Homo sapiens: one gene and its partners. The protein of the gene in region 1 interacts with the protein of each later gene in a biochemical or structural test. Each region holds a gene or a part of one and is shown on either strand. Other genes may lie near its edges.

Region 1 (3,844 bases):
CCCAGCACTTTGGGAGGCCAAGGGGGGCAGATCGCTTGAGCCCAGGAGTTCAAGACCAGCATGGGCAACATGGTGAAATCCTGTCTTGACAAAAGATACAAAAAAAAAAAAATAAAATAAAAGAAGGCCAGGTGCGGTGGCTCACACCTGTAATCCCAGCACTTTGGGAGGCTGAGGTGGGCAGATCACTTGAGGTCAGGTGTTCAAGACCAGCCTGGCCAACATGGTGAAACCCTGTCTCTGCTGAAAATGCAAAAATTAGCCAGGCGTGGTGGTGCGCACCTATAATCTCAGCTACTTGGGAGGCTGAGGCAGGAGAATCGCTTGAACCTGGGAGGTGGAGGTTGCAGTGAGCCAATATCGCGCCATTGCACTCCAGCTTGGGCAACAAGAGCAAGACTCATCTCAAAAAAAAAAAAAAGATGCAAAAAAAGCCAGGCTTGTTGGTGCACACCTGTAGTCCCAGCTACTTGGGAGGCTGGGGTGGGAAGATCACTTGAGCTCAGAGGGTCAAGGCTTCAGTGAGCTATGATTGTGCCACTGCACTCCAGCCTGGGTGACAGAGTGAGACCCTGTCTCAAAAAAAAAAAAAAAAAGATTCCAAGATTCTGAGATGCAGCGAGTCTAGTGATCATGAACTCGGGATCTGGCCCTAAGATGCTGTGGTGGCGGATACTCTAAGGCTCTATGATAATAAGTCCTGAGTTCACAAGTTCTAAGAGGCAAAGGCAGCAGGGGGCCAAGAACTGGGCCAATCCCCAGTTGAGATTCTGTAAATCAGAGTTGACCTTCAGATGCCTGGATATTAAGATTCAAAATCCATGAATATTATATCTTGAGTCCAAAATTCTGGGAGGCCAAGGTACTGTTGTTTCCTCTAGGAGTTTTCTTTTTTTTGAGACAAGGTCTTGCTCTGTTACCCAAGCTGGAGTGCAGTGGTGTGATCATGGCTCACTGCAGCCTTGACTTCCTGGGCTCAAGGGAGTCTCCCACCTCACCCTCCCAAGTAGCTGGGACCACCGGCATGGACCACCATGCCAGGCTAATTTTTAAAATTTCTGTAGAGACAGGGTCTCACTATGTTGTTGTATTAGCCCGTTCTCATGCTGCTATAAAGAACTGCCCAAGACTGGATAATTTATAAAGGAAAGAGGCTTAATTGACTCACAGTTCCGCAGGGCTGGGGAGGCATCAGGAAACTTACAATCATTGTGGAAGGGGAAGCAAACATGTCCTTCTTCACATGGTGGTAGGAAGAAGAAGTGCCAAGCAAAAGGGGGAAAAGCCCCTTATAGAATCATCAGATCTCTTGAGGACTCACTCACTATCATGAAAACAGCATGAGGGTAACTGCCCCCATGATTAAATTACCTTTCACAGGGTCCCTCCCATGATACATGGGGATTATGGGAACTACAATTCAAGGTGAGATTTAGGTGTGGACACAGAGCCAAACCATATCAGTTGCCCAGGCTGGTACTGAACTGCTAGGCTTCAGCAATCCTCCTGCCTCAGCCTCTGGAGTAGCTGGGACCACAGGTGTAAGTCACCAGGCCCAGCTAATTTTTAGCATTTCTATAGAGATGGGATCTCACTGTGTTGCCCAGGCTTGCCTCAAACGCCTGGGCTCAGGTGATCTCCCTCCTTGGTCTCCCAAATTGCTGGGATTACAGGCGTGAGCCTGCGCCTGGCCTCCTCTAGGATTTTTAAAGCATCTTATGAATCTAAAAACTTCTCACATTCAGGATTCCACAAACTAGGTATCCTTCAGGCTTGAGATTCTGCTTCTGCGATGGATCCCAGGGAATATCCAAGGACCTATTTGCTGCCCTTGGGTGTCGCTGGGCAGGACTCTGCCTGCATCCCCCACCCCCCAATTTCTACGTCCTGCACCCTACCCCCACCCCCAGCAAGCCTGGCTAGGTCTCTGCTCCGCCAGGACCCTGGATGACCGTCCCCTGCCCCCAGGTCAGACAGCCCTGCACATCGCCATTGAGCGTCGCTGCAAACACTACGTGGAACTTCTCGTGGCCCAGGGAGCTGATGTCCACGCCCAGGCCCGTGGGCGCTTCTTCCAGCCCAAGGATGAGGGGGGCTACTTCTACTTTGGTAAGGAGGGGCCTGGTGGGGGCTGACAGCATGCTGGAGAAGCATGGCGGGAGATAGCATGATACTGGTTGGTGTCTGCAGCCCTGACCATCACCCAGACACCCAGGGCCACTCTGGCCATGAGCGCAGGCAGCACTCTGGACCACAGGCTGCACGTTGGTCTTGGTCACAGGGCCGTTGCCTCTGAGGTGTAAGTGCCATGGGGAGTACCATGGACCTGGATTCAGATCCTCACTCCAGCCAGGCACGGTGTCTCACACCTGTCATCCCAGCACTTTGGGAGGTCAAGGCAGGAGGATCGCTTGAGGGCAGGAGTTTGAGACCAGCCTAGGCAACATAGCAATACCCTGTCTCTTTTAAACATTTAAAAAATGGCTGGGCACGGTGGCTCATGCCTGTAATCCCAGCACTTTGGGAGGATGAGGCAGGTGGATCACCTGAGGTCAAGAGTTCAAGACCAGCCTGGCCAACAAGATGGTGAAACCCATCTCTACAAAAATAACAAAAATTAGCCGGGCATGGTGGTGGGTGCCTGTAATCCCAGCTACTTGGGAGGCTGAGGCAGGAGAATTGCTTGAACCTGGGGGACAGAGGTTGCAATGAGCCGAGATTTCCCCATTGCACTCCAGCTTGGGTGACAGAGTGAGACTCTGTCTCAAAAAATAAATAAATAAATAAATAAATAAATAAGTTAGATGGCATGGTGGCATGTGCTTGAAGTCCCAGCTGCTTGGGAGGCCGAGGCTGGAGGATCACTTGAACCTAGGAGTTCGAGGCTGCAGTAAGCCATGATTGCACCACTGCACTCCAGCCTGGAAAATAGAGCAAGACCCCGTCTTTAAAAAGCAAAAAGAAAAGAACAAAAAAAAAGCCAAATCCTCACTCTGCACTTTCCAGGCATGTGACCTCACTTCCCTGAGCCTCACCTTCCCCAGCTGTGCAGTGGGGATCACGAGAGGCCCTTGGGCTGTGATGTCAGCGCCCAGCTCTGTATTGTCTGTGTGCTTTAATCTGGTTTATGCTGGGACCAACAGCCCCATCACCAGGCCCAAAGCCCACCACTGCCGTTGTCATCACTGGACTCATGAAATATTTTGAATTTTGCCCCTGCTTAAAGGCATTCATTATGTGCAGCTCAGGGACAAAGTCACACAAAGAATTCCATCATCAGCTGGGCGCGGTGGCTCACGCCTGTAATCCCAGCACTTTGGGAGGCCGAGGTCGGCGGATCACTTGAGGTCAGGAGTTTGAGACCAGCCTGGCCAACATGGCGAAATCCTGCCTCTACTAAAAATACAAAAATTAGCCAGGTGTGGTGGCGTGCGCCTGTAATCCCAGCTACTCGGCTGAGGCACAAGAACTGCTTGCACCCGGGAGGTGGAGGTTGCAATGAGCCGAGATTGTGCCACTGCACTCCAGCCTAGGCGACAGAGTGAGACTTTGTCTCAAAAAAAAAAAAAAAAAGAATTCCATCATTGGATGTGTCCAGTCCCTCACAGCCTCCAAATCGCGTGGCTGTGCCCTTAACTAGCCACACCCCATCTCCCTGGCATCACCCAGAGAAACGTGCAGTTCATATCCACTGCTGGTGCTGTCTCCGTCATTATCCTCAGAGCGCCACGGTGTCCGTCCCCCGAGTGTCTGCAGGCAGAGTCCCACCCTGGGCCCCCTTCGCTGACCTCCCACCCTTCACCCTGGCCCGCAGGGGAGCTGCCCCTGTCGCTGGCTGCCTGCA
Region 2 (3,500 bases), about 14 Mb from region 1:
ACTTGGGAGGCTGAGGTGGGAGGATCACTTGAGCCCCGGAGGTTGAGGCTGCAGTGAGCTGTGATTGCACCACAGCACTCCAGCCTGGGTGACAGAGCAAGACCCCAACTTTTTTTTTTTATAAAAAAGGCTCTTGAGGCTGGGCATGATGGCTTACGCCTATAATCACAGCAATTTGGGAGGCCAAGGCAGGAGGATCACTTGAGGTCAGGAGTTCGAGACCAGCCTGGACAACACAGCAAAACTCTGTCTACTAAAAATACAAAAATTAGCTGGGCATGGTGGCGTGCACCTGAAATCCTAGCTACTCAGCAGGCTGAGGCATGAGAATCACTTGAACCTGGGAGGCAGAGGTTACAGTGAGCTGAGGGAAGCAGAGGTTGCAGTGAGCCGAGATCATGCCACTGCACTCCAGCCTGGGTGACAGACTGAAACTGTGTCTCAAAAAAAAGAGCTTGTGAGATGGGGAGATGATTCTGGATTATCTGGCTGGATTATCTGGTGGGCCGATGTCATGCCAGGGTCTTCGTAAGAGGAAGGCAGGTCAGCGTTAGAGGAATATGAGGGAGATGGGAAGAAGCTACGCTGCTGGCTTTGAAGATGGAGGAAGGGGCCACAAGCCAGGGAATGCAGAGTCCATAAGTTGGGGAAGGCAAAGAAATGGATCCTCCTCCACAGCCCCCCAAAGGAGTGGAGCCTTCCCAACACCTTGATTTGAACTCAGTGAGAGCCATTTCCGACTTCTGACGTCCGGAAATTTCTCCAGTATTATTTATATTGATAATTACACATATGCCTCCATAATACTGTATGACATTGTATCCATAATATTGGATTATCCAGTTCAATAAGACAATACATTTCTGGCCAGGCATGGTGGGTCACGCCTGTAATTCTAGTACTTTGGGAGGCTGAGGCAGGAGAATCACTTGAGCCCAGGAGTCTGCAGCCAGCCTGGGCAACATGGCAAGACCCCATCTCTGCTAAAAATTAAGCTGGGTGTGGTGGCACATGCCTGCAGTTGAGCTACTTGGGAAGCTGAGGCGGGAGGATTGCTTGAGCCCAGGAGGCTGAAGCTGCAGTGAGCCAATGGTCACGCACGGCACGCCAGCCTGGGCAACAGAGTGAGATGCTGTCTCAAAAAAAAAAAAAAGATAACACATTTCTGCTGTTTTGAGCCACTAAGTTTGTGTTGATTTTTTTGTTGTTGTTTGTTTTTTTTTTTTGAGACGGAGTCTCACTCTGTCACCCAGGCTGGAGTGCAGTGGTGCGATCTCGGCTCACTGCAAGCTCCGCCTCCCGGGTTCATGCCATTCTCCTGCCTCAGCCTCCGAAGTAGCTGGGACCACAGGCGCCCGCCACCACGCCCGGCTAATTTTTTGTATTTTTAGTAGAGACGGGGTTTCACCGTGTTAGCCAGGATGGTCTCGATCTCCTGACCTTGTGATCCGCCCGCTTCAGCCTCCAAAGTGCTGGGATTACAGGCTTGAGCCACCGCGCCCGACCAGTTTGTGTTGATTTGTTACAGCAGCCACAGGGAATGAATACAGACTTTAACCCTAAATTCTTTTTTTTTCTTCTCTCAACGAACTGAAGTTGATGCTGGGGTTGCTGATTCTCGCCTCTGAGTTGACCACTCAGAATCTCATGCTGCCTCCATACCAGCCCAGTGGTTCTCCGGAGAAGTCAGCCCTGATCAATCATCTCCTTCACGTTCTTCCCTCAGCACCAAGAGTCCTCAAATTCCTCATCTGAGCCTACAAGCCCCGGCACCTTCCTGATTCATCTCCCAGTCCTCTTCCTCACTTGCTCTGCTCCAGCCACACCGACTCTGTGTTCTTTGAACATGCCAAGTGCATTCCTACCTCAGGACCTTTGCACTAGCCACGTCTTCTGCCTAGAATGCCTCTCCCCCAGATCAATCTGTGGCTGGATCCTATCCTTCATTCAGATCTCAGCTCAGATGTCACCTCCTCAGGGAAGACTTCCTGACTGCCCCATCTGTTAGACTACCACCCTAGTCAGTCTCTTTCATGTCTCCCAGTTTTATTTTCTTTATGGCACTTATTATAAGCTGATTTTTTTTTTCTGAGACAAAGTCTCGCTCTGTTGCTCAGGCTGGAGTGCAGTGATATGATCTCGGCTCAACGCAACCTTCACCTCCCAGGTTCAAGCGATTCTCCTGCCTCTGCCTCCTGAGGCGTGCGCCACCACACCCAGCTAATTTTTGTATTTTTAGTAGGGATGAGGTTTTGCCATGTTGGCCAGGATGGTCTTGACCTCCTGACCTCAAGTGATCCAGCTGCCTCGGCCTCCCAAAGTGCTGGGATTACAGGTGTGAAACACTGTGCCCAGCCTGAATTTTTTTTTTTTTTTTAATCTATCCTGGCTAAGCACAGTGGATCAAACCTGTAGTCCCAGCACTTTGGGAGGACAAGACAGGAGGACTGCTTGAGCCCAAAAGCTCAAGACTAGCCTGGGCAACATAGTGACACCTTGTCTCTAAAGGAAAAAAAAATTACAGTGTGCCTGTAGTCTTAGCTACTCAGGAGGCTGAGGCAGGAGGATCACTTGAATCCAGGTGTTCAGGGCTGCAGGGAGCCGTGATGCCATCATTGCTCTCTGGCCTGGATGACAGAGTACGTCCCTGACTCAAAAAAAAAAAAAAGGAGAAAAAAAATCTCTATCTCTTCCTCATGCTAGAATAATTGCACCATCCCATGGAAAGTCAGTAGCCACACGTGGCTGTTGAGCATTTGACATGTGGCTGGTCTGAGTGGAAATGTGCAGCAGGGGTTAAAGACACACCAGATTTCAAAGATGTAGTAGGAAAAAAAGAGTGCAGAATATCAAATGATAAGTTTTTATACTGATTACATGTTGAAATGAAAATATTTTGGATCTACTGGGTCCCATAAGATATATTAAAATTAACCTCACTGGTTTGTTGTTGTTGTTGTTTTTGAGACAGAGTCTCACTCTGTCACCCAGGCTGGAGTGCAATGGTGTGATTTCGACTCGCTGCAATCTCTGCCTCCCGGGTTCAAGCGATTCTCCTGCCTCAGCTTCCTGAATAGCTGGGATTATAGGCACTCGCCACCATGCCCGGCTAATTTTTGTATTTTTAGTAGAAATGGGGTTTTGCCATATTGGCCAAGCTGGTCTTGAATTCCTGACCTCAAGTGATCCACCCGCCTTGGCCCCCCAAAAGTGCTGGGATTACAGGTGTGAGCCACCGCGCCCAGCCAACTTCACTGTTTTTTATTAACATGGCAAAGCTGCATAATATTTCTATGGTATAGCACTACACTAAAAAGTCAGGCTCATCAGGGCCAAGGCCTCATCTGTCATGGTCATTACTGTCTTCCCAGTGCCCAGAACAATGCATGGCACACAGTAGGTTCTCAGTAAATATATTCGCTGAATGAGTGAATGAATAGCATAGTCTGGTATGTTACACGCGAGTGTATCAGCCCAGCCATTGCTTTCTAGAATTTATT
Region 3 (3,500 bases), about 97 Mb from region 1:
GTCTAGGGAGCTAGAATTGCTGTTTAGAAACAAAACGAAGGGAGAGGAATATTGTAGGAAAGCCCTAGCTCTGCTCAACTGTGACCTCATACAAGTAACTTCATTTCTTTTTTCTTTTGATATGGAGTTTTGCTCTTGTTGCCCAGGCTGGAGTGCAATGGTGTGATCTTGGCTCACCACAACCTCCGCCTCTCAGGTTCAAGCGATTCTATTGCCTCAGCCTCCCAAGTAGCTGGGATTACAGGCATGTGCCACCATACCCGGCTAATTTTGTATTTTTAGAGAGACAGGGTTTCTCCATGTTGGTCAGGCTGGTCTCGAACTCCCGACCTCAGGTGATCTGCCCACCTCGGCCTCCCAAAGTGCTGAGATTACAGACATGAGCCACCATGCCCAGCCTATAACTTCGTTTCTATAGGTCTTGATTTGCTCATTTGTGAGATGAAAGCATCACAGCAGATCATCTTACAGCCTCTTCCTGGCCCCAAAGTATTTTCTCATTCTAAGTATTACCGCTACCATTTAAAAGTGGGGGAACCGAAGCCAGCCAGCCAGGGTAACTGATCATGTAAGAGAGCCCTCAAGGAGCTGAAGGCAGATCTGCCAGGTCTCCTGCCCCTCAGTGCACACTAGCAAAGCAGGCAGGTGCTGGTCGATGTGCGTTCCTCAGGTTTGGAGGAATGAGCTGAAGACACCTCCTCTTCCCTGCCCAAGAGCACTGAAAGGTGACCGGCCTGGGAAGAAAGCACCTGGTACTAAAGTTCTTCTAATGCCCAGAATCATGAACAATTTGATATCTGCTACTTCTCCCTATTTCAGCTAAAAGCGAGATGGAAGAGGAATTAAAAAAATGTGTGTATTTACATTTATATTTATTATTGTGCCACTTAGCACTGCTCCATCCCCAGTCCTGGAAACAATTTAGAGCCCTTCGGTCCAGTGGTACAGCGGCAGCAAAAGGTATTAGTTAACACTAAGATCATTAACTCTTCTGGACACGGGAAATGGGAACACTAAGCTATGTAGGTGCTCTCATGGAAACATCTTCTGCATTATCAGAGACTGAAGAGAGAAATTCACCTGGGCTGACTCTTGGCTGTGCCATTCATTCACCCAGGCATTCTTTCCTGCTTTCCTGCTCTATGCGGGGCAGGTGCTGTCAGAGCAGAGGGAGCAGTACCAGTTATGGGGTGGGGAAGGTTTTCATTCCAACCATCCCAGGGAGTAGCTCCATGACGTTGTACCTTGTATGTTTCAGGGGAGAGGTGCCGAAGTTTCATTGAACTTACACCACCAGCCAAGAGAGGTGAGAAAGGACTACTGGAATTTGCCACGTTGCAAGGCCCATGTCACCCCACTCTCCGATTTGGAGGGAAGCGGTTGATGGAGAAGGCTTCCCTCCCCTCCCCTCCCTTGGGGCTTTGTGGCAAGTATGTGTCTGATAAGGAATTTACAGTAGTTACCATTGACTTGGGCCTCTCCGGATCTAAACTGCACTGTGATCTCCCACTTTTCTCTTCTGAGCCCCAAAGGGTGACACAAATTCCTCCTTGAGCTGACTTTCATTCATATGCAGGAATGCAAAAACAGAACAGCAGGGATAAATAAGATTCACAAATAGAAAACCACCAACAGTGCTAACCTACTCTTGTTGCCAAGTAACCATGTAGGAAGGCTTAGCTTTTTCCTCCTTTTTCTCCACTATTATTATTATTATTTGGTAAAATGAAAGGAAAAGAGTGAAGAAGGGAGGCAGGGAGGGAACCACCCCAAAATTAAATGAGGAAAAAGACAAAAAATGATAACTAGAGCAACATTATTTCCCTGCAGGATTTATGAAAATTCGATGATTTCTTCTCAAATCTCCCCAACAGTATTTACAGTCAGTCAAGCTTACTTGGGTATATATTGGTTATGGAGTGGGAGCTGTGAGTGACGTCAAAGGACTAGAAATGAAGTAATGTTCCTCCCTGGTTTCAGCTGTGCCTCATTCTCCCCTTCTCAGATGCTGCTAGGGTCTTAACTCCTAATAGGCATCCTATGCTCACCGCTTATTCAGTTTTTTAACTGTCAGGGTGAGCGCTCCCTCTTCCTCTGGTTTCTGGCAGAAATCCTATGGTTATCCCTGGGAACGCAGATCACCTACATCGGACTTCAATTCATCAGCTTCCTCCTGCTACTAACAGACTTGCTACTCACTGGGAACCCTGCCTGTGGGCTCAAACTGAGCGCCTTTGCTGCTGTTTCCTCTGTCCTGTCAGGTGAGTTGCTCCTGGAGTGAGAGAGGGTGGTTGGCCCTGGCCACTTTTGAAGCCCTAGCTGGAGGGCTTGAGTCTTTGCCCTGAAGGGGAGGAGCCCAAAGGCTCTTTAAAGAATGGAGGTAGGCATCTTTAATTTTAAATTGAAGTAACATACAAAATTGTATATTGGATCACCGTGTACTTTACAAAATGATTTACCTCTAGGTTCCTTTATTTGCAAGCTTTCTCAATATGTAAAATCTATTGTTTGGGTTACTTTTCAGTTGTGACATACACACAGCTTTTCAAGACCAGTCTCCATTGGATAAAGTGAAAGATGCACATATAAGATGAAGAATTAAGCCAACATTGGGGTGTGGGTGGGAAGGAGTAGGGGTGGTGTGCAGTGGCCTTGGGTGCAGCCTTGACTCAGACTTTTTCCATAGCTCTCAGCCTACAGTCTGGGGTCACCTATTGCAAAGATGTGTATTTAAGGAGAAGCCCCCATTGTGAATTAGTCTTCGGGAAATGTGGTGGCATAGGGTAATGGGCTACTCCAACAGAGGCTGCGCCTGACTGCAAGAAGGGTGATCCAAAATCGTACTCCTGGCAGATGGCATGAAAGCCTTTCTCTAAGGGCTCTGCCTTCCTGTTTCCTTGGTAGGTCTCCTGGGGATGGTGGCCCACATGATGTATTCACAAGTCTTCCAAGCGACTGTCAACTTGGGTCCAGAAGACTGGAGACCACATGTTTGGAATTATGGCTGGGCCTTCTAGTAAGTGCTGTCATCTCCTGAACCTTTGTAGCCCCAGCCAACCTTCACGAGATTTTCTGCCCTCAGCTAGATGCTTATTCGGTGAAGCCCTGCCTTCTCTTCATCCCTCATCCCAAGAGCCTGTCAACCACACAGGGCTGCATCATCAGGGCACATCCATTCTTCCCTGCCTTCTGAGGGGGTACAGGAAGGATTCCTCGAGTGTGTCTTGGGAGGATGTTATTTTGTCCAGTTTTCCTGCTCATCAGCTGTGGCAGTTGCCTCTTTACCTGGTATATTTGTCACCCTGGGGAAACAAGACTGATTCTGTAGGCCTTATAGAAATGTGCTCTTTTTTTTTCTTTTTTTTATGATTCAAGGTATTAGAGAACAGAGAAATAGAGAAATCGCTTTGAAATTTGGATTGAATTGCATTCTCTGTAAATGGCTTACTCCTCTCCTCTTCACTTCCTTCTATATCCATTTTTATTCTACTGAACCGTGT
Region 4 (3,500 bases), on another chromosome or scaffold:
CAGGCCGGTCTTGAACTCCTGACTTCGTGATCCACCCGCCTCGGCCTCCCAAAGTGCTGGGATTACAGACGTGAGCCACCGCGCCTGGCTATATATATATATATATATATATATATATATATTTTTTTTTTTTTTTTGTAGATACAGGGTTTCGCCATGTTACCTAGGCTGGTCTCAAACTCCTGAGGTCAAAGTGATCTTCCCGCCTCGGCCTCCCAGAGTGCTGGGATTACAGATGTGAGCCACTGCACCTGACCTATTTATTTTGAGACGGATTTGTGAGACTGGCTAATTTTTGTGTTTTTGGTAGAGGTGGAGTTTCGCCAAGTTGCCCAGGCTGGTCTCAAACTCCTGAGGTTAAAGCGATCTTCCCGCCTTGGCCTCCCAGAGTGCTGAGATTACAGGTGTGAGCCACTGCACCTGGCCTATTTATTTTGAGACAGATTTGTGAGACTGGCTAATTTTTGTGTTTTTGGTAGAGATAGAGTTTCGCCAAGTTGCCCAGGCTGGTCTCGAACTCTTGGAGTCAAGTGATCTATCCTCCTCAGCCTCCTAAAATGCTGGGATTATGGGCGTGAGCCAGCAGACTCAGCCATATCACCAAATTTCTGAATTCTTATGTTTTTGTACTTTTTATGAGGAGTTGCAGACAAGGCTTAGTTTCCGTGAGGTCTTCTGTTCATGTCAGCATCTAGTACTTAACCTTTAAAAATACAGGTTTAATGTCATTTGTAATGTCCTGGGAAATGAAAGGAAAACTGATGTTTTTGTTATTATAATTTGCTCCAGCACTTTACTCTCATTTAGTAGACTTAGTATTTTGCTGTCCTTGACTTTTCAAATAGCTGTCTGGCAGTGGCAGAAGTGGACTTAGGTGAAACTGTACAACCGTTAATATATATGGCAAGAAAAGACTATGCTTTTCCCCAGTTAAAAAGATGAGAACTCGGGAGCATAGTTTCCCATCACCCTGGCTTTATTTACCTTTTTTACTATCCTGATAGTTGTGCAGAGGTAGTGGGAAGAATTGTTCACTTGGCATATATGACTCCTTCCTCATTGCTGGTATGATATGTAGGATGTGTTGACTGAGAAGGCAGTGAGTACCTACTGGACACAAGGACAACATAACTTTTGCTCCATTTTACTAGTCTCCTAGCATTTCAGTAGAACAGTTTAGAAGCTAGATTTATTCAAAGGGTACAGAGTTTGCAGAAACTTATAGCTGTGTTCAGCCATCTCACGCATTTGCCTCTGTAACCATATAGCATTTCTTTTAAAAGATCCTGAAGAGGCTGAGGCAAGAGGATTGCGTGAGCCTAGGAGTTTGAAGCCAGCCTGGGCAACATAGCAAGACCCCAACACATTTAAAGAGAGAGCGATCCTGAAGAACAGATTTAGTTGAGCCTCTCTCGTCCTACTCATTCACTCTCTGTTAGGATCCTATTCCAATAAATAGTTTGAATCTACCAGATAGGGACAATTTTCAGGGGTTGGAAACAACTTCTAAAGAACAGGATCTGTATTTTACAGAATGTGAAATTACTAGGAAATACCCAGAAGGTGGGCATTTTGCCAGAAAATGGGTATTTTGAAGAGAGTGTGTGTATGTGTAACTTAAGAAAAATTCCAAACATGCAGTAGAGAGAAACATTTAATAAACCAGTGACCAGTCTTGTCTCCTCTGTATCCCCACTTTCCTCCTCCAACCAGATTATTTTCAAGAAAATCTCAATCATATCATTTCATACCCTGCCACTTTTATAAACTAGCAAGTTTTGAATTAGGAAGCATGTTTGTTATTGAAAAATATTTTCTTGTCATGATGGATCATTGTAAATAAACCACTTGTTTAGTGTTCAGTGTCTTGATATCGCTGAGCCAGAAATTTAAAGTAGATTGATAACTGTCCTGAATATGAGACAGGTAGGCATTGAGATGGAACTCAGCTGAGTGCTGATCCATTGTAGTATGTTAAAAGCTTAATGAATTGAATTAAATGAAGTAGAATTTACTAAGGCAGGCACCTTGGCTTCTAGGCACCCAGCATAGTTCTGAGATGGTGGAAGAACATTTTGGCTTTTAAAAAACTGAACTTTGCTGGGAAGTCTACCCTTGCCAAGATCTCGTTGCACAGTTCTGAGTTCTCTCAGAACTGCACAGCTTACAGAACACAAATTAAAGGCTTTTTTTTTCTTTCCCAGCAAGAGATTATGTTTTACCTAAACCAAATTATTTAAAGAAAAAAGGAGAAGGAGTATATGTTAGTTCCTAGGCTGTTGCTATAGGGCAAAAGAGTTTTATTGCTCGTTTGAAGCTACTTCTATTTGACAATCTATAAATACATCTTGCTTAAGTTGGAAAGCATTTTCAGCCCTAAATGTGTTCTCATTGCATGTGACATAATGTAGTTTTATATTATGAAGACAGAACCAGCTAACTACTGGCCACATTGTTAGAAATAAAAAGAAAGCAAGATATAAAGTTTTCTGCTTTGCTTCTGATACTTAGTTGTGTTCAATTAGGGAAGCAAGTTTTAAAGTTAAAAAGCAGCCATCTCTTTCATAGAAATAGCTTAAATGATGGGTGTGTATCTGCAGGGCAAGAGTATAGATAAGCAAGTAGTTTATAAACAGGCCCTATTCTAAGAAGCTAGCCATTTTAGGAGAGCAGCCTGGGTGATTCTTTTGAAGATAAATTGGATATTATAGTTGAAAGATTAATTGGCTACCAAAAATAATTGGGTAAAGGATTTAATTGGATGTTCATAGGTAGTCTCTTGAACCAAATAACCATTTAGGGCTCTTTGAAGTGAGTTGTAGACTTGCTCCCTATTTTAAGTGTTAATTTTAGCTGTTTCTCTAGGAAGCCTTTTTACATTTTATCTGAATTTGCTGCTGGAATTTACAAACTTCTAATGTTTACAAAAAATTGGGCATATTTTTTGAAGCAGCGTGGTGAACATTCTACCTTAAATCTACTTTTCAGACACTTAATTTTATAACTATGGAAACAAAAACTCTAACTTCCTGGGGAAAGCTACCTGGCCTTTTGCTTTTATAATTACATCTGTTTGGAAGTGTGACCAGTCTCTTTTTGCTGACACTTACTATGCTCCTTTCTTTAGGGGCTTAGTGCTAGTTTGGTAGTAACTTCAGGGCAGACTTGTAAGCACTTTGGGGAGAGAGTGACAGTCAAGGTTTGGATGGTCCTTTTATGAATTGAGGAGCAGATGTCATGGCTCTTCTTGGTACATGTTGATAGGAACCACTTTTTTTTTTTTTTTTTGAGATGGAGTTTCGCTGTCTCCAGGCTGGAGGGCAGTGGCGCAGTCTCGGCTTACTGCAACCTCCGCCTCCTGGGTTCAAGCGATTCTCCTGCCTCAGCCTCCCAAGTAGCTGGGACTACAGGTGTGCGCCACCACACCCAGCTAATTTTTGTATTTTTAGTAGAGATGGGGTTTCACCATGTTGGCCAGGATGGTCTCGATCTCTTGACCT

Evidence for each region. The genes of interacting proteins can lie anywhere in the genome.
Region 2: the proteins of TRPV4 (region 1) and RILPL1 interact in a test that uses a peptide from one of them, tested with the Homo sapiens proteins (one large-scale study listed by BioGRID).
Region 3: the proteins of TRPV4 (region 1) and GSG1 interact in a test that uses a peptide from one of them, tested with the Homo sapiens proteins (one large-scale study listed by BioGRID).
Region 4: the proteins of TRPV4 (region 1) and EIF3J interact in a test that uses a peptide from one of them, tested with the Homo sapiens proteins (one large-scale study listed by BioGRID).

Annotation. Positions count from the first base shown.
Region 1 is NC_000012.12:109,798,883-109,802,726, reverse strand, and holds part of TRPV4 (transient receptor potential cation channel subfamily V member 4), read left to right. Parts: intron 1-1,968; coding exon 1,969-2,109; intron 2,110-3,814; coding exon 3,815-3,844. UniProt on the Homo sapiens protein: Non-selective calcium permeant cation channel involved in osmotic sensitivity and mechanosensitivity. Activation by exposure to hypotonicity within the physiological range exhibits an outward rectification.
Region 2 is NC_000012.12:123,527,220-123,530,719, forward strand, and holds part of RILPL1 (RILP-like protein 1), read right to left. Parts: intron 1-3,500. UniProt on the Homo sapiens protein: Plays a role in the regulation of cell shape and polarity. Plays a role in cellular protein transport, including protein transport away from primary cilia.
Region 3 is NC_000012.12:13,086,668-13,090,167, reverse strand, and holds part of GSG1 (germ cell-specific gene 1 protein), read left to right. Parts: intron 1-819; coding exon of another isoform or gene 820-891; coding exon 892-960; intron 961-1,258; coding exon 1,259-1,306; coding exon of another isoform or gene 1,307-1,430; intron 1,431-2,108; coding exon 2,109-2,261; intron 2,262-2,877; coding exon of another isoform or gene 2,878-2,904; coding exon 2,905-3,016; coding exon of another isoform or gene 3,017-3,020; intron 3,021-3,500. UniProt on the Homo sapiens protein: May cause the redistribution of PAPOLB from the cytosol to the endoplasmic reticulum.
Region 4 is NC_000015.10:44,540,147-44,543,646, forward strand, and holds part of EIF3J (eukaryotic translation initiation factor 3 subunit J), read left to right. Parts: intron 1-3,500. UniProt on the Homo sapiens protein: Component of the eukaryotic translation initiation factor 3 (eIF-3) complex, which is required for several steps in the initiation of protein synthesis.